Linked DNA regions of Homo sapiens. The protein of the gene in region 3 binds, or shares a complex with, the protein of the main gene of each other region. Links are inferred from orthologs where the notes say so. Each region holds a gene or a part of one and is shown on either strand. Other genes may lie near its edges.

Evidence for each region. Proteins that work in one complex are often made in the same cells at the same time.
Region 1: the proteins of POLA1 (region 3) and PRIM2 are in contact, whole or in part, in a cryo-EM structure (PDB 8G9F), measured with the Xenopus laevis proteins. The link is inferred for Homo sapiens from one-to-one orthologs. Residues at the interface, in NP_001082055.1 of Xenopus laevis: Leu842, Lys853, Ile894, Pro895, Glu896, Leu971, His974, Arg977, Glu978, Leu981, His982, Glu985, Gln988, Lys989, Asn991, Glu993, Asn1007, Asn1009, Arg1101, Asp1102, Glu1106, Gln1109, Glu1221, Asp1224, Gly1225, Asp1227, Ala1229, Leu1230, Met1233, Trp1234; in XP_018121015.1 of Xenopus laevis: Pro34, Pro35, Thr36, Glu37, Asn38, Ile39, Ser40, Leu41, Ile42, Phe44, Glu45, Ile49, Ile107, Phe110, Ile111, Leu114, Cys117, Gln118, Ser119, Glu120, Asp121, Arg123, Ala240, Arg241, Leu243, Val245, Val246, Gln247, Arg251, Leu252.
Region 2: the proteins of POLA1 (region 3) and POLA2 are in contact, whole or in part, in a cryo-EM structure (PDB 8G99), measured with the Xenopus laevis proteins. The link is inferred for Homo sapiens from one-to-one orthologs. Residues at the interface, in NP_001082055.1 of Xenopus laevis: Gln548, Lys551, His553, Gln554, Asn555, Phe642, Glu645, Val646, Gln649, Asn652, Leu673, Gly675, Arg676, Phe679, Lys1137, Asp1141, Pro1143, Asp1144, Ile1321, Gln1322, His1324, Asn1325, Lys1326, Leu1328, Leu1329, Arg1332, Ile1335, Lys1336, Tyr1338, Tyr1339; in XP_018112289.1 of Xenopus laevis: Met280, Tyr281, Lys282, Phe283, Met284, Phe285, Gln286, Lys287, Leu288, Met289, Ile291, Arg292, Val295, Ser296, Ile299, Glu314, Thr316, Leu320, Pro321, Gln323, Glu324, Thr325, Val326, Gln331, Gly333, Cys334, Asp335, Ser336, Asn337, Gly338.

What each region holds. Positions count from the first base shown.
Region 1 is NC_000006.12:57,642,601-57,647,356, reverse strand, and holds the end of PRIM2 (DNA primase large subunit), read right to left. Parts: intron 1,430-4,756; coding exon 1,199-1,429; 3' UTR 507-1,198; downstream 1-506. UniProt on the Homo sapiens protein: Regulatory subunit of the DNA primase complex and component of the DNA polymerase alpha complex (also known as the alpha DNA polymerase-primase complex) which play an essential role in the initiation of DNA synthesis.
Region 2 is NC_000011.10:65,278,933-65,285,967, reverse strand, and holds part of POLA2 (DNA polymerase alpha subunit B), read right to left. Parts: intron 6,431-7,035; coding exon 6,342-6,430; intron 4,977-6,341; coding exon 4,821-4,976; intron 4,299-4,820; coding exon 4,236-4,298; intron 3,490-4,235; coding exon 3,447-3,489; intron 1-3,446. UniProt on the Homo sapiens protein: Accessory subunit of the DNA polymerase alpha complex (also known as the alpha DNA polymerase-primase complex) which plays an essential role in the initiation of DNA synthesis.
Region 3 is NC_000023.11:24,990,913-24,997,516, forward strand, and holds the end of POLA1 (DNA polymerase alpha catalytic subunit), read left to right. Parts: intron 1-4,892; coding exon 4,893-5,038; 3' UTR 5,039-6,074; downstream 6,075-6,604. UniProt on the Homo sapiens protein: Catalytic subunit of the DNA polymerase alpha complex (also known as the alpha DNA polymerase-primase complex) which plays an essential role in the initiation of DNA synthesis.

The DNA of each region.
Region 1 (4,756 bases), on a different chromosome or scaffold from region 3:
AGGGGGTTACTATAAGTATCACTATTCATTGCTCAAGTAAATTAATTTAATTTACCAAATCTATTTGGTAATTCACAGCAACTACAGAAGTAATAAGGTATGGAAGTTGGAGGGTAAAATAAACACTTTATTTTATATGTACAACCTTCTTGCTTGGTAATTGTCTATTCTTCATGAACCTGTCCCCAGAGTAATGGCAGCAGATAAGACGTGCCATTATTTTACATAATAAAATATCCCTATTATTCCTTAATAAATATAACTGGCTATACTTTATGTTAATTCCCAAGTCACAGTTCACTCAGGAGGGTCTGGTGCCACTCAAAGGTGCCTGATGTAGAATAACCACAAATAGGTCAACTCTTAAAAAAAGGTAAAGAAAAGTTTAAAATCTTCATTAGTGATCAGCAGTGTGTTGGATACTCCAAATTACCATTTTAAAACTGAAGTAATGTCCAATCTGTTACGACATAAGACTCTCCCAATTATACGCAGACACTGTCATGTACACTTTGATATTTATTAACAAAAATGGTCCAGAAAAGGATTGAGTCAAAATTACAAAGTGATTAAGAGTTAAAACAAAAGTTGTTCTTTATTGTAGTTTCTGGGGGACTTTAACCAGTCCCCAAAGCTGTTTTTATCTCCTAAAATAGGACTTAAATGACATCACTCAAGTGACAGATTTTAATAGAAACTCCTCCTCTTTCCTTCTGTCAAAGCAAAATATAGTGAAAGTCTCTGTTGTTACCTCAAACCTCCTTTCCTAATAAGTGTGCATGCCTGTAGATGGATTGGGATGCAGTGAAGAGAGAAGTTAAACAAAAAGGTTAAAAAAAAAAAAAAGGCCAGGCACAGTGGCTCACAACCGTAATCCCAGCACTCTGGGACGCTGAGGTGTGAGGATCGCTTGAGCCCAGGAGTCTGAGATCTGCCTGGGCAACATAGGGAGACCCCCCACCTCTACAAAAAAAAATTGAAAAAAATTATCTGGATATGAGGTGCACACCTGTGGTCCTAACTACTTGGGAGGCTGAGGTAGGAGGATCACTTGAGCTGGGAAGGTCAAGGCTGCAATCAGCTGTAATTGTGTCACTGCACTAAGCCTTGGTGACAGAGTGAAACCCTTTTTCAACAACAAAGGCAAAATCTTAAAAACAGGAAACAGGCTATTGAGGAAAAAGGGTTATAAAACTGCCTAAGAATCTTCACTAAAGTAATCTTCTAGTCCTTCCATATCCATTTCCAGAGAGGAATTTAAAGAGGCCAGAGCAGATGATGCATCCTTGGTTTTCTGGACACTTGGTTTGGGTTGAGGAGTTTCTGGTTGGATAGGTTCCTTCTTTATGTCTTTACCACCATTTAGAATACGTTGGCTCTCACAAAAGAACTGATTAGGATGATTCAAAGAAAAGCCACAATCATCCACCTGTAAAGGAAGGAAATTTATATTGCATTAATGCATGGCAAAGCTATAAATATATGAGTTTCAAAAGCTGTTTTAGTACTTGTTTAAAACTTAATACCTGAAACATGGATTCTAGCTGTTTGCATTCTAACACTTAATCAGCTACTTACACCATTTCATTCAAAGAGAGCTTCAACCACTACCCAAACCTAAATGGCTCCCACATTTATATTTCTAGTCTGAGCCTCTGTGTTTGGCTCCAGTTCCCTATCTAGTTTCAGTCCCATATCCAACACCTACTCAACATCTAAGATGGCTCAAAGGCAGCTCAAACCCAACAGGAAACGTATCCTTTCCCCTCTCCCCATCCTTTGCTCTCAGTGATTGGTATCACCATTCATCCTTGGGGCATACTAGACACCTTTCTCTCACCTCCCCAGCCCCCAACTCCCACCTGCCACCTCCCATCTACACCAAGCCCTCAATTCTGGCAATACCCAAAACATTACCAATTCTGGTTGACAATTACGTCAAAACAAAAAATTAGAAAACTATAAAAATATGTTTGGAATACAAATGTGTGTGTGTGTGTGTGTGTGTGTGTGTGTGTGTGTGTGTGTGTGTGTGAATGACATTGTATGTTAGTGAGGCACAGGTTAGGGACCTGTGTGATTCATTATTGTATCCCCAGTTCCAAGCAAAAGGCCTACCACATTGTAGGCCAGTAAATATTTGTGGGTTTTTAAGTGATCGTAAAATCATTTTTGATCATTTTGATACTGGTCCCTGATACCACTTGTGTTTTAGAGCTGACTTGTAAGTCTGGCATATGCACTCATTTAGTATGATATAAACTGAAAAAGCAACCTAAGTCAATGTAATTCTTCATTCTAATCTTGGCCTTTCCTTGGTCTTTTTACAGAAAATCTCTTCTTGTAAATTTCACTGTGACTGAATACAAACATGCCTGGTTCATAACTTATGTTATTTTTTCTCAAATACTATCATTAAACTTTAATTTTGAGTATCATTTCAAATTATGCACTCTAGTAATCTCTCCTTATATTCAGTTTCACTTTCCACAGTCTCAAATCCCTGCCTTCTCGCCTTCTGCAGTTGGAGTTGACAACAAAAATATCATTTTGCTTGAGTGAGTGACTGTTGGTTTCTTGGGTGGTATTTTCATTTATCAAGTTTTTGGAAACTGAGAAGTTATTCCATTTCTTTTGTTCATCTGTCTTGTATTAACTAATCCTTTTACGTCTCACTCTTCGTACTGAAGTGACTTGCACACTGTAGGTATCTAATAAATATTTGGTGAAGTGAACCCAGAAATAGTGTATACCAGTGATAATTTTGCATATTTAATTAAAGCCTTACTATATAAAAGACTGTGTTATAAACTATTCACTATTCAGCATACAGGAATACATTTGACTAACTCAAATTTCCAACCCAGTAAGTCATATACTTAAAAACCTCTACCAAGAATGGAGAACTGATGAGGGTCACAGATAAAGGCCTATTACACTCCACAGTAGAGAGAAATTTCGGCTGAGGAGATCAAGGAAGGCTTTGTAAGAGGAGTGCTATTTGAGTTGCGTCTGGAAAGATGGAGAGGGTGAAAAGCTGGGATGATGAGGGGAAAGGCAATATTTGCAGCAGGACCACATGAGCAAGGTAAAGAGGGAATGTCCTGGGAAAGCAAATATTAAATAGTTCACATAGCCTACTATGAAAGGCACATACAAGGAAACAATAAGGAATGAGGTTGGAAAGACAGGCAGGGGCCAGCCTGAGAGAGCCTTGAAAATCAGGGTAAGTGGTCAAGACCTAATTCTCTAGGCAACACAGAGTCACCAAAAACCCTTAAAAAGAGACGTGGTGTGATTAAAGCTATGTATAATCTTTTAGTAGATTAAAATGAATTGGCCAGGGAAAAAGGGGTTGCTGCCATGGTCTAGAATGAACCCTACTGGTGGACGGACCAGCAGACAGAAACATGAGTCTTTTCTGGTAATACTTATCTAAGCACCCTAGGAATCTCTGATTCTCTTTTGCTAGTTGTTAATACATGTTAGGCTAATTTTATAGTAATTCCAGTGTGTAACAGATGGATAGTATACAGACTGATTTTAAGAGTTATAGATCATTAAGAACAAATTTTTATCTTTGCTTCATTTTTTTAACTTAGCTGCTTGATTTCAAAATGTTTCTGAAATGTTTTATAATTTTTATTAACAATGGAATCATTTGTGAACTTTTTTATTACATTCAATTTTCACCCAATTCATTAAAAACTGGGAAATCCAATATAAATTTTGCATTTTGCAATGTGTTTCACAAAAAGTATGTTTATTGTCTAATACATTTTAATCAGAAGGCTTTACAGTTTGTAAAATAGTTTGTAAACAGAGAATCAGAGATTAGAAAGACCTTGGGGAATCCATTAAATTCAATCTCCTCCATGTACAGAGGCCTAAGGAGAATAGATGGTTTATTCAAGGTCATAGAATTAGTAACTGGTTTTGTCTGAATTAAAATTCAGGCCTTCTGACTAGATCATTAGTTGCTCTGAAATCTGTTTTAAGAGATTGTATGCAAAATCATACTGATAATGATATCTCCATTATAAATTTTATTTCTAGAGATAAACTTGGCTACAAAGATTAGAAAAACATAGTTGTACTATTTCATGCAAAAATAACCTAGTATCTTATGCTATAATAATATCTTGGCATTTTCTATACCTCGCTTCAAGTTGTCAGTTAGCAATACATTTATTAGACTTCAATGTGCACAAAATAGGGTAATCTTTTTAAAGTCTGATTTTCTCCATCTATGAAATGGAGATAACAGTGTTAGGTCATAGGGTTGCCATGGGAAAAGTAAATAAAAATGAATGTTAAAAAAAATTGTTCTATGAAATCTAAATAAAATGTTTTTAAAGAGTCAAGAAAAGCAAGTCACTTAAAAAAAAGGTGAAAGTCACAGAAGGAGAGGGAGAAAGATCCTATTGCTTTGCATATATCAAGTTCCTTTTCTACTTTAAGGAATCCAAACTGGAAATTGCTGATGCTGTATTATGGGTATAGTTTATAAAAGAAAGATAAAATCAAATTCCAAACACTAAACGATACTCAAAAGACCCTGCCCTAACTAATAAATGGCATTTAAATGACTTAACTTTAAGATATAATATTTAAGGGGCTGGGCGTGGTGGCTCACGCCTGTAATCCCAGCACTTTGGGAGGCCGAGACGGGCGGATCACGAGGTCAGGAGATTGAGACCATCCTGGCTAACACGGTGAAACCCCGTCTCTACTAAAAATACAAAAATTAGCCGGG
Region 2 (7,035 bases), on a different chromosome or scaffold from region 3:
GATTCAGTCTATCATGGTAATAATACCATGAACTGACAGAGCATTCAAGGTGAAGAGCAGGTTTCATGTGGTGGTGGGGTAGGGGACAAAGTTAAGTTTGGCTCTGAGAAGCCTACAGGAGATGTGAGCCCCAGTGTAAGCAGTGAGTCTCTGGAGGGCGAGGGCCATGTCTTATTCTGTATCTCCATGAGTGCCTCATTTAATTCCTTGTACAAAAGTTCATTAACAACCTGTTAAACTGTTTCCAAAGGCTTCTCTGGTACACAGCTCAGGCTCCTGGTATCTCAGCCAGGTTGATTTCATTACCTGAAGTTGACCTAATACCAGCATGCCACCCTTGCCCCCTATAAATTTGTATTTTCTTTTTTTTCTTTTTCTTTTTTTTTTTTTTTTGAGATAGGATCTCACTCTCACTCCTAGGCTGGAGTGCAGTAGTGGTATGATCATGGCTCATGGCAGCCTTGAACTCCTGGACTCAGGAGAGTGATCCTCCCACCTTAGCCTTCCAGGTTGCTGGGACTATAGGCACATGCCACCATGCCCACACCCAGCTAATTTTTTTTTTTGAGACAGAGTCTAGCTCTGTCGCCAGGCTGGAGTTCATTGGCGATCTCGGCTCACTGCAACTTCTACCTCCCAGGTTCAAGCGATTCTCCTGCCTCAGCCTCCTGAGTAACTGGGATTATAGGCACACGCTGCCAAGCCAAGCTAATTTTTGTATTTTTTAGTGGAGATGGGGTTTCAGCTTGTTGGCCAGAATGGTCTCTATCTCCTGACCGTGTGATCCGCCCACCTCGGCCTCCCAAAGTGCTGGGATTACAGGGGTGAACCACTGCGCCTGGCCTAATTTTTGTACTTTTTGTAGAGATGAGGTTTCACCATGTTGCCCAGGCTGCTCTCAAACTCCTGTGGTCAAGCAATCCTCCTGCGCCAGCATGAGCCACCACGCCCGGCCAAACTTGTGTTTTCTGATAAAATGTGCAATATCACAAGGTCCTAAATTTCACTCCTGATTCTAGGTCATCTCCAAGAATGGCTCTGGCCACTGTTACATGCATGGGGTGTTGACAACATGCTAGTATCAGTGATCTGGTTGCTAATCCTTAACAGTGCTCCACTGTGCTTACAAAAATGCCTTGAGGGTTGGGTGTGGTGACTCATGCCTGTAATCCCAGCATTTTGGGAGGCCGAGGCGGGCAGATCACCTGAGGTTGGGAGTTTGAGACCAGCCTGACCAACATGGAGAAACCCCATCTCTACTAAAAATACAAAAATTAGCCAGGCATTACAGGTGCATGCCTGTAATCCCAGCTACTTGGGAGGCTAAGGCAGGAGAATCGCTTGAACCCGGGAGGTGGAGGTTGCGGTGAGCCGAGATGGCGCCTTGCACTACAACCTGGGCAACGAGTGAAACTCTGTCTAAAAAAAAAAAAAAGAAAAAAAAAACAATGCCTTGAAATACAGAAATACATACATATATTTTTTTGAGACAGGGTCTCACTCTGACACCCAGGCTGGAGTGCAATGGCACAATCATGGCTCACTGCAGCCTTGACTTCCTGGGCTCAAGCAATCCTCCTACTTCAGCCTCGCAAGTAGTGGGGACTATACAGGTGTGCACAACCACACCAAGCTGATTTTTTTTGTTTTTATTTTTTGTAGAGATGCAGACCCACTATGTGCCGGGAGGCTAAACTTAAACTGGGCTCAAGCAATTCTCTCACCTTGGCCTCCCAAAGTGCTGGGTTACAGAAGTCAGCCATCACACCTGGCCACCTTGAAATAAATAAATTCTATCTATCTATCTATCTATCTATCTATCTATCTATCTATCTATCTAGTGTCTTACTCTTTCACCCATGCTGAAGTGCAGTGGCATGATCACGGCTTACTGTAGCCTTGACTTCCCAGGCTCAAGTGATCCCCGCACCTCAGCCTCCTGAGCAGCTGGGACCACAGGCACATGCCACCATGCCGAGCTAATTTTTTTTTTTTTTTTGTAGAGACAGGTTTTCGCCATATTGCCCAGGCTGGTCTCAAACTCCTGGGCTCAAGTGATCTTCCCACCTCAGCCCTGTGAAGTGCTGAAATTATGTTGAAATATTTAGAAGCAAAGTTTGTCAAACTTTCTTTTTGCCTTTCCACAACTAGATTAGTTACCACATAACACTAGGGTTTTAAAGAAATTCTTTTTGGCCGGGCATGGTGGCTCATGCCTGCAATCCCAGCACTTTGAGAGGCCAAGGCAGGCGGATCACAAGGTCAGGAGTTCAAGACCAGCCTGACCAACATGGTGAAACCCCATCACTATGGGGTTTTGTAAAAATACAAAAATTAGCCGGGTGTGGTGTACGCCTGTAATCCCAGCTACTTAGGAGGCTGAGGCAGGAGAATCACCTGAACCCGGGAGGCGGAGCTTGCAGTGAGCCAAGATCTTGCCACTGCACTCCAGCCTGGGGGGCAGAGCGAGACTCCATCTCAAAAAAAAAAAGGAAGTTATTTTTAAGTTTTCACTTTAGAACAAATTTAGAATTGTAGAGAAGTTATGAAGATAGTACAGAGTTCCTGTGTGTCTTTCACCAGTGGCCCCTAATCTTAACATGTTAGGTAACCATGAACATTTGTCAAAATTAAGGCATTAATGCTGGTATATCGCTGTTAACTAAATTCCTGGATTCTCGAGGTTGAGTGTTAGAGCCAGAAAAATAAAAAAGTAAATTCCTGGCTTTATTCAGATGTTGCTAGTTGTTCCACTGATGTTCCCGTTCTCTTCAAGGATCCAATCCAGGATGCCACATTATACTTTCAAAAAATTAATTAATTTTAATTTTTTTTAAGAGTCAGAGTCTCGCTCTGTCACACAGGCTGGAGTAAAATGGTGTTACCATAGCTCACTGCAACCTTGAACTCCTGGGCTTAGGCAATCCTCCTGTCTCAGCCTCTGATTAGCTAGGACTACAGGCATGCACCACAAGCCCAGCTAATATTTTTTTTAATTTTTAGTAGAGACAGGGTCTCCCTATGTTGCCCAGGCTAGTTTCCAACTCCTGGCCTCAGGTGATCCTCCCACCTTGGCCTCCCAAAGTGTTGGGAATACAGGTGTGAGCCACCGCATCTGCCCATGCTGCATGTAAATAAATTCTTTTTGAAATCGTACATCTTTTCCTTTCCAAGGCAACCTTCAAAAATACCTGTTAAACATTAGTCTTTAAACAACATGCTTCATGTAGGCAGAACTCAGGCGACAGCACGACCAACGCTCACTGGGCTCAGACCAGGGGTCTTGTGACAAAAAACCTACGAACTCATGATGGTGGCGCCCTCACTGCTTGGTCACATTGCTCTTCAGCAGCTTCTGCAGCTTTCTTGGGCTTGGGAAACTGCACTCCTGGACTCATGTCTACCATCCTCATTGTTGGCAAAACAATATTTGAACCGAAACTCACCTGCATCCTCTTCAGTGGGCTGATAAAATGGAAGTGGCACACCCTAAAAACAGGGGAAAAGCTCAAGTAAGGTCTTGCGCCAGGCATCACCTTGGTAAGGAAAGGGGAGGGCACCAGGTTGGGGGTGGTGCAGGTGTGTGATGGGAGGACAGTGGGGAGGAGCGAGAGGGCAGGGGAAGGATGTGCCTCTGTCTTGCTCCCTGGATCTGATGGGACCTGCCATTTTTCTATACTGCTCAGAGGGCAAAGAAACCCAGGTAATGGGAGGTCACTACTCAATTGTCATAAAATACCCAGCAACAAGTGGGAGCAAAACAGGTGCCTAAAGTATCAGTGTACTTCTAGGCAAGGATGGGAGAGAATGGTTTCTTGCTACTTTTCCTGGCATTCTACGAAAATCTCTGGAGGATTGTTGCCTAGAGCAGGGATAGGTAACCTTTCGGCCTCTGGGCCAAATTTGGCTGCAGCCCACTATTTAAATAAAGTTTTATGGGAACACAGCCACAGTCATCTGTTTAAGAGTCCTCTATGGCTGCTTTTGTAGACAAAGGCAGAATTGAGTCATTGTGACAGAGACCATATAGCTACAAAGTCTAAAAGAGTTACTGTCTGGCCCTTTATAGAAAGGGTTTGCTGACCCCTGGCCTAGGGGTGGGTTCCCACTTACAGATGGAGAACTGACTAACAAATAAATGGGCTCCTAAAAAGGACCAGTTTCTAGAACAGACAGCTTCCAGACATACTTTGTCTGAAGCAAACCAAGAGGCAAGTGGGGGTACTGCTGTGTACCTCGTAGAGTTTGGTGGCAACAAGTTTCCTACCAGTGGTGTTGATTCCTTCCATAATTACAACCTGAAAGACAAAAACAAACAGGATTGCTAAGCAGTGGAGATCAATGAGGTCTGGAATACATTATTTTGAGGCAGTTAAAAGCATTGTCCAACTACTCTCATTCTGTAATCATAAACTTAGGGCATTTTTGTAGAAAACGAATTAAGGGCGTTGCATTAGTAATAATAATTATGCTCTATATAAGTGATCTAATTTTCACAACAATCCTATGAGGTAAGAATTATTATTTCCATTTTGTGAGTGAAGAAACTGTAGTTTAGATGGTTAAGTACCTTGTGCACAGTCATGCACCTCATGGAGCGGGGAGTTGGGATTTGAGGCTGCGCAGTCAGGTCCCAGAGCCTGGGTCAGAGCATGGGGGAAACAGGAATCCCAACAGTGGTGTCTGCTCTGGGGCATGTGCTCCAGCTGCACCCCATGGCAGCAGAGACAGGAACTGAGGAGCAGCTGCGCATGGCACAGCACCTACACTACAGGGGTAAAGAGTGCGCCTGCATTCTGGTGGAACTCCTCCAATCTCACCTGTCCAGGAAACAGAGAATATTCCTTAAGCTCAGATAAATCCACTGGAATTTGAGCACCCGAGGAATGTTCCCGGTCTCCCTCGAGAATCACTGACTTGTTGTTCAGCTTCCCGTTGCTATCACAGCCAATCTGGCCCAGCAGAGTGACAGGCTCCTACCAAAGGAAGGTCACAGCATAAGAATGACAGTCTTTGGAGCAGGAGCTCAAAATCTGAAGTCGATAGGGTGAATAGCAAAACAAACTGCAAACAACAAATACATTTCTTGGCAGGGCATTGCTTTGACCCTGAGGTGACTACCGCGTCATCACTGACTCTCAGGATGGAAGAACTCTGAAAGGGCATCTTGTCCACCCATCCACCCAGCACTTGAGCCTTCCTAGGAGGCTGCCTAAGTGTGAGCATCTCTAGTGTAGGGGAACTTGCCCCTGGATGCCTACCCCACCCTGTCCTCACCACCCCAGGGCAGCCCACTGCATCTTTGGGCAGCTATAACTACTTAATAATAGCTAACATTTCTTGAGCTTACTAAATACCATGCACTGTTCTAAAATGTATTCTTAGGCATTTTATATGTATTAACTCATTTAATCCTTGCAACAACCATCGGGTGGATATTACTGTATCCATTTTACAGATGAGGAAAACAAGCAACAGAAAGGTTAGATAATTTAGTCAAGGTCAAACTGTGGGTGAAGCTTGGGTTTGAAACCAGAAATTTGGCTCTAGAGCCATATCCTTAGCCACATACCATACAACCTCTTAACAGGAAGTTCTTTATTAATTGAGCTAAAATCTCTGTCTCCATGGCTTCCTCTGTTCTGTTCCCACTCTTGGGAGAAAACAGAGGAAGTCTCATCTTTCCCAGTGATTGTGCCTCCCTGCCTTCCCTCAATTACTTCCTTCCAAGTCCTCTAACACTTCCTTCTATGACACAGTTCTGCATCACTTCCCCAACTGATCATTCTTTGAATGTAAACATTGACAAAGGTACTTTAAAGAAACTTCTAGAATATATTTCCCCTTAGATTAGAAAACATTCTAGAGAGAAAGCACTGGTATATATGCCAGATTAAACTATGATATAAAGATACTATTGGCAGCAGTTTGTCTATAACAAGAGACCAAACCAGGGGAGAGACTGTGAGTCATTGTCCAGAGAACAAGATTCTGAAAACCCCACCGTCGCTGCTGTCCTTTTATCTCGATACGTGAATGCTTCTATTTGTGGGAAATCCCCGGGGAGCTACCTGACTCACCACCAAGGGAAACAAGGCCTTGAGTCTCTGCTTATGTGCAAGACTCTAATCCAAGTGGGAAGAAAATCACTCTCTGGCCACAAAACCAGACAGCACTTACAAATCTTTCTTCAGAAGGGCCCATTTTCCCAAATTCAACCAAGACAGATGTTCAAACTAGAACACAGACAAGAAGTGAAAAAGGAAGCAAGAAGGATGCCTCTTGGTCATCGATTTAAAAACGTAATATTAATTAGTGAGAACTATTAGAACAACTCTTACCTGTGCTGGGGCTAGCAAAGGAGTGAAAGCTTCAATCTTGTAATGTTCCTTGAGTTCGCTGCCAAGTTCTTCTATCTTACAGGTCAGAACTACAATCCCAGAAGTGGAAAAAAGTATTATGTTTAAGACATTTCACTTGCCAAGAAGAGAAAATACAGCACATTGTAAAATATTAAAGTCAGTCATTTTACAGAAGCAGGAAGGGTGCCTGGACATCTGGCCAGTTTAAACCTTCTAAAACCTTTGCCAATTTTCCGATATTTGGTTGCTGAATCTGGCCTTCCATCTGGCCACAGGAGACCCCATAGCACAATTCCAGGGAATCAGCATGAACCCCACCCCATCTCCAAGTCTGCCCTTTACTCAAGTCCTCACTGAGGTTTTAGGCAAGTCAAGGCCAACCTGAAGAAGGCTTCTAACGAAGGAACCATGAATATCTTTAAGTTGAATTCCTTTACATCGTTCAAGTTTTTGCTGCTGGGAATGGTTATGTGCGTTTTAGCAAAGTGAAGTGACTTGGGGCAATCACTGATAGTATTGCCCGTGTCCCTCCATTACTAGGGCTTCCATGAGGACATCTACCAACTCATACATTGAAAGGCAACCTTGGAACTTGTTCTACCAGCCTAGCTGAAGCTTTGTTACTCTACACCCTTCTAGGTGGTTTTATATCCACCAGAATTTCAAAGGGAAA
Region 3 (6,604 bases):
CTTCACAAAAAATTATTTTATTCCATCTCTCAGTGATGATGACATGATTGCTTTTTGGTAATCATTTACCATTCTGATTTTATTTTTTGAAGTAAATTGTCTGAAGTAATAGGTTCTTGGAATTACAGCGTGCCTTGCTTTTTTCTTAGAACTTTATTTAAGCTTGTCTTCCAGCATTTAACCCGAGTCCCCTCTTTCGTTTGATCTTCTAACTTTATTTATACAACAGTGCTTAATGATCCTGCACAATGTGTTTCTTTTTTTTTTTTCCTTCTCTACAACCTCCCCCCCCACACCCACCCAAAAAAAAATTCTGTCCAGTATGGTTGACAGTACTTTTTATAACCTCAGCAAGGGGGCTGCATGGGCAATTTTCTTCCGACATGACAAATGCAAACACCCAAAACCCAACCCTGAGAGAATCACTTCATCCAGTTGAAAGGAAATTTTTTATCTCTTTCAAGGTGACTCTTTTGCCACTGAAACATGGTAAGGGGCACGACTCTTACCTTCTATTCTTGTCTATAGAAGTGGCATTCTTTACATTGCTTTATTCTGTCTCCTCCCTTCTCGCATCGGCCTCTGCTCTTCCCCAAACTTCCACTGAACAACCCTTCCTGGTAGTTGGGCCCCATGGCACCTCCATTTGCTTTGAGTGTGAAGGGTCACTGTTCACCACCACCAGGCTGCAGCAAGCCTGTGTTTATTGAACATGAACCAGACCAATGGTGGAGAGAATTATAATCACACTTCTAAATACTTGTCAGATCAGCCTACAGCCTAGTAGAGCACTTGAGCTAAACCATGGATATTTTATTCTTCTTGAAGGCTGTATTTTGGTATCAACATAAAAGAAGAAAAAAGAAAGAAAACTGAAGATAATTATTTCTAAGTAGGAATGGAACTGGATAGTGGACTAACAGACTCTTCAAGCCTTCAGAAATATTTTAGCATCTAAGATGTGATTTAATGGGTGAGAATGGTCCTCTAGGCATTGGCTAATTGATAGACACATTGATCACTGTGTGTGCCTGGCACTGTGCCTTGTGAATTTTTTTTTTCTAAATAAGAATTGACTCAAAGATTATTTCTTTTCATTTCTTACTTTGAGAAATGTTTATGTACTTGCCATTTGATTTGGGGCCCTAAATGTCTTTGAGTTTAAAATATGGATGTCACTTGAAATCTTTCAGGTACTGTGCATAGCCGGAAGCTCAGTTATATGGATCGATATTCAGGAAAAAGGCAGGCCAGAGGCTCCAGCAGCTCTCTGTAGGTCGGATGGCTCTACGTGTAGAGAGCGTAGAGGGGTGCAGTTTTCTTTCAAATTTTTCTAAAGCTTCCTGCATTCCACCCCTTACTGCAAAGCTCACGTTGCATTGAGGGAGGGAGGCTATGGATTGGAAAAGGTGGGAGAACTGAGAACTGTATGGTGGGAAGCCATGCAATTAAAAAACTGACTGAAATTATTACCTGATTTCATAATTGACAGAATATTTAATTCAGATATAGTAAATTGACACACCTCTACACAGAGACAATTATGACTGACTGTATAACACCTGACAGAATCAATTATAACTGACTGTTGTTTGATACCTTTGTACAGAAATAAATGAAACAGACATTCAGAACAGAGACGGCTGCTGCCTGTGTGCCTAAGCCTGCCTTAATTAAAAGAAAATAACCAGTAGGCGATGTTAAAATGTCTTTGCCTCGTGGTTTCTAGTTCAGTGTGTTTCTTTAAGTCCAAAAAGGGTTTTATAAAGAGTAAAGTTGAAAAGAGATTTTTGGTTTACTGACATGGAACTAAAATATGTGAAGTAGAGTTAGTTTCCTTAGATGGGAGAATACTCCATTATTTTAATAGAGCTAGCATTTTATTTGATCAGTTGACTTTTATATAAAATATTTAAGAAAGGTCAACCTACAGATGATGGTCTAGTTCATCCCATATAGAAAAGAATGTAACTTTCATTATTTTGAGGTTTTAGATTCTAATCAATAGAAATCAACTTTTAAATGAGCAGTTCATTTTGTAGTCTGATAAAATATTTTGTGAATAATTAGTATCTAGGCTACCCTTTTTTTCCATCGTTTTCATAGGGGTTAGGGACAGAATATTTTTGGTAATTAACATATAACCACAGGGAATCAGAGCATGTAGAAAGGATCAGAGTAAATAAGCTTTATATACACGTTCCTCGAATGTTATTCTCAAGAAAAGTTTAAAAAGGAGATTAGCTTTGCTGATGTATTAAGATGAGTGATTTCTGGGTGATACTTCAAGCCATTAGAGTATATTTCAGTGACGCACTTGTGTGTAGGAAGAGCATTTCCTCCCCGATCTCGACAAAGGTTGGCTTTGTGGTGCTGGTGGCGGAGACAGCAGTTACCAGGGCCAGTGGCATCTCTGTGGACAGGGATGGGATGGCTGCGGATCTTCTCTGGCTCTTGCCTAATGGCATGTTGGAATCTTTTAACAGTTGTTATTGGGCACCTGACCTGCAGCACCTGAGGTGATGGCGTCGTTACTGATAGGCTGACTCTCAAAATCAAAGCAGGAAAAGGAATCAGGGTTTTACTGGCCACATTAACTGGCCTCCACCAGTTAACACCTGTATTTTCCCTTGAGTTCTAAAGTGGTGGATATAGTATTGACAGAAACAGGGTAACAGTTTAATGTGAGGCCTAACGTGGGTGGCCCAGGTGCCTAAAGGGGGAAGAGAAAAACCAGGAAGGGGTGACTCCTTCCCCCCACCAGCCCCTGTCCCTGACGCAGCCTGTGACAGCTAGTCCAGTTCTGTTTCCTAGAAGACCTTCCATATGTTATTGATTAAATTCTCTTTGGGGAAGCAAGTGGGAGCTTTTATCTGCATCTCTAACTGGCGTGGAATGGTGCCTTGGCCGTATTGACTGGCTATGGGATATGCTGGCGGTCACAGTTGTCTTTTAGGAGGAAGAGCACCGAGTGACGCTGGTTGTCATTCTAACTCTGCTGTGTGGCAGCGTAAATAGTCCCCTTTCTAACCAACCTGGTGGGAAAAGTCAATATCCCATCAGCAGAGGAGGTAAACACATCAGGAGCTATGTCCTCTCTTTTCCTCCCCTGCTCCGTATTACCGCAGCTCTTTAAATGTGCTCTCCCCAGTCATCAGATGCATTTGTGTCATTCACATGCACGGGGTTGCTGGCCTGTGGCTCTGGCCTGCCGGGAGGCAGCCGACACTGGTTGGGGCCATTGTTGTTTATTCCCAGACTCAGATCATTAGAACTTTCAAATTGTCTTTCTGTTGCAGCCCCCCTCTCTTTTTCCACCCCTTTTGGGCATTTTAATTCTCTATAAAACCTGTGGTTGTTCTTTAAAGGACAACTTATGTAATTCAGAAAAGGTTGTGGAGAGCAAATGCGAATGTATAGCCAAGAAACAAAAATCTGGAGTCTGAGTTTTCGTTTTCCGGGTGTTTTGTAGACTTCCCGTGTTGCTGTTGTTGGAGGTTTGCTTTCTGTGAGTGGCGCGCTCTCCCCTCCGTGTTTCCTTCCTGACCGGTTCCTATCGGGAGGTGCTGGGCAGCCTTGCTGCTCCCAGGCCCTTTGGCACAGGCCAGCATCTTATGGGGGCGGAGGCCTCACCTCAGGATCAGCTGATGTCTGAGGCCTGCAAATTTCTATGTGGGAGTAGTGATGTAGTGGCAGGGGGAGTGGGCAGAAGTGAGCCTCTCCTCAGGTGCGGGCTGGGGGTTCTGGCTACCTGGGTTTGCGTGTCTACAACTCTGATTACCTGCTGTGTAACCTTGGGTAAGTGACTTAACCTCCCAGTTTCCTCAGCCATCAAATGGGGATTGGGGGTGGGGGGGGCGCGGGGAAAGCAGCCTCTCCAGACACCTTACCAGGTTCCTGAACACAGCGTCATCCCCCACGTGATCACTCTCTTCACCCAAAAGATCAGACCTGAGCATCACAGCCCCACTGCTCCTTTAAAAGAACAACATGTAGGGCCGGGCGCAGTGGCTCACGCCTGGAATCCCAGCACTTTGGGAGGCCAAGGCAGGAGAATCACTTGAACCCGGGAGGCGGAGGTTGCGGTGAGCCGAGATCGCGCCACTGCACTCCAGACTGGGCAACAAGAGCAAACCTCTGTCTCAAAAAAAAAAAAAGAAAGAAAAAAAACAACATGTAGAAGTAGCAGGCTCTGGGAAGGGAAAGGAGAGGGGTCTTTTCTCTGGCTGGTAGCATCCTGCTCAGAAGGGAAAGGCCAGGGATGAATGGGTTAAAGGAGCAGGAGTGCCGCATACCCTGAGTTCACACAGTGTGGACAAAGAAGAGCAAAGAAATCTTGGCCATGGACAGACAGGTGCCCTCGGGGCCGCTCACCTCTCGCCTCTTTCAGCAAAGGAAATTTTGTTTAGCAGAGGGACTTGGGCTGGAGGGACTAGAAAATGCTTACTAGGCCCAGCTGATCTGGGGAGTTGGGGCTGGAAGGCACCAGAGGCCATAGCTCCCTTTGAGACTAGGTGTTTCCTGCCACGTCCAGACTTCGCAAGCAGTTGCATGCATGTGCTCGCAGCGCCGGTGAAAGTGGCGTCTGCGAGTAGAGCTCACCTTGTCTGCTGCACATGAGGGTGCACCTGCAGTTCACATCAGTAGAGGGTGGCCCTGTCCCCCAGTGCACTGAGTCAGCTAGGTGCTGAGAGGCGGACAGACAGGGGAAAGGAAGAAAAGCTTTCACAGAGGAATGGTCGGCGGGGGCTGCATCTGACTGGCCCCAGGGGTAGACCAGAGATAAGATGGTGGAGATACAAATGGAATCAGCATCCCCTTCTCTGGTGGAATACTGAATGTTCTTTAAAGAAACTACCTGAGACTTCTAATCTCTCTCTCTCTCTTTTTAGATAAATTGAAGAAGCAATTTTTTACCCCCAAAGTTCTGCAGGACTACAGAAAACTCAAGAACACAGCAGAGCAATTCTTGTCCCGAAGTGGCTACTCCGAAGTGAATCTGAGCAAACTCTTCGCTGGTTGTGCCGTGAAATCCTAAGGGAATCCCAGGAGTAACCAAGGAGGGGGTAGTTGAAAAATCCCAGCTTCCTCTGTGCCTCCACTCTGGCCCTAAATGCTCCTCCAGCATCTGTTTCTCCCTTGGGACTGTGTCTCATGTTTGTGTGAATGTAGACCAGGAAAGGGGGCTGCAAAAATGTTGAGTCTAATGTTCGTAAGCATCATAGAAATTCCTGTCTTCATATTAAGATGTACTGCTTTAAAACACAACTCCAGAGCCCCTCCCCAAGCTCCCCTCCCCAAGCTCCTGAAGACCCGGTTTCTGAGGGAGGGAAATTGCTACTTGGATTGAGAGTAGCTGGAATGTAAGTGACCCCAGGCTTTGCCTCAGGGCCTTTAGCCTATGTCCCCCCCACATAAAGAGAGCTTCTCAGAGCCTGACTGAAGAGCTGACGTTTTGCTTTTTCATATGCCAATTAAACCCGGTCTAAATCCAAATGCTTCTCCAGCCATCCAGGAGTGGCTGTCCTTTTCAGTCTTGTCTTTTATATAGGTAGCTGAGGGGGAAGATTTAGAAGCCTTGCACTCACTAAATAGATTAAACAGAGCAGGCTTGTTTGTTGAATTGCTCCAAAGTCCAACAGACACACACTGAGCAGGTGTTTTACACTCACATTCCCTTTTTGCCCCTTAAATAGAAAGTGCAGGTAAAGGTTTATACAACAAGAAAGCACATTGAAAATAATTTGATACTCTAACAATCCATTAACATGTGTAGGGGTTACGGTGAGGATCACTGTGTTGTATTCAGAAAAACGGGGAGAGGGATGCTTAATTGGCCCTGGCGCTTGCTATTTTTTTCTCATTTCTTCACAATAGGACCGTCTTTGGCAGCAGCAAAATGTATTTCAGTATGGCAGTCTTTCCTCTCTTACATTATTGGTAAGATTATACTAACAAAATGTTTCCCCTTGTACAATTATGCTGTGTTTTTAAAAAACATTGACCTGTGTGTTTTTATAAAAGAAAAAGTATGTTGTGCCTTCTTCTTAAGAATAAAGTTTTCTAAAGGGAAAGCAGTTGTGGTGAATCCTTACCAGGTGCAAAGAGTTGACTAGAGAGGCAGCAAGGAGTAAAATGTGAGTAGAGCCAGTTGCTGTGGCACACACCTGTAGTCCTGGCTACTCGGGAGGTGGAGGCAGGAGGATGGCTTGAGCCCAGGAGTTCAAAGCAGACTGGGCAACATAGTGAGGCCCCCACCTCTAAATACATACACACGTACATACATATACATATACATATACATATACATATACATATACATACACACACACATATATATATATACACACACATATATATACACATATATATATATATGACTAGAGGCCATCCCCTTTTCAAACCTCAGCCCAGTTTCTTCATAGCCACCTCTATCAGAACCCAGCTCAGGAGTGCACAGCATGATATTTGGTCGAATGTTCTGAGAAGCATTCAGAATTTCTGTGACTTTAGGTCATTTAAGAGATGAAGTATGGTTTCTTACGTGCTTTGCTGACTTAGAGAGCCAAGCCAAGAGCCCAGCAGCATCTCTTTTTGAAGAGCA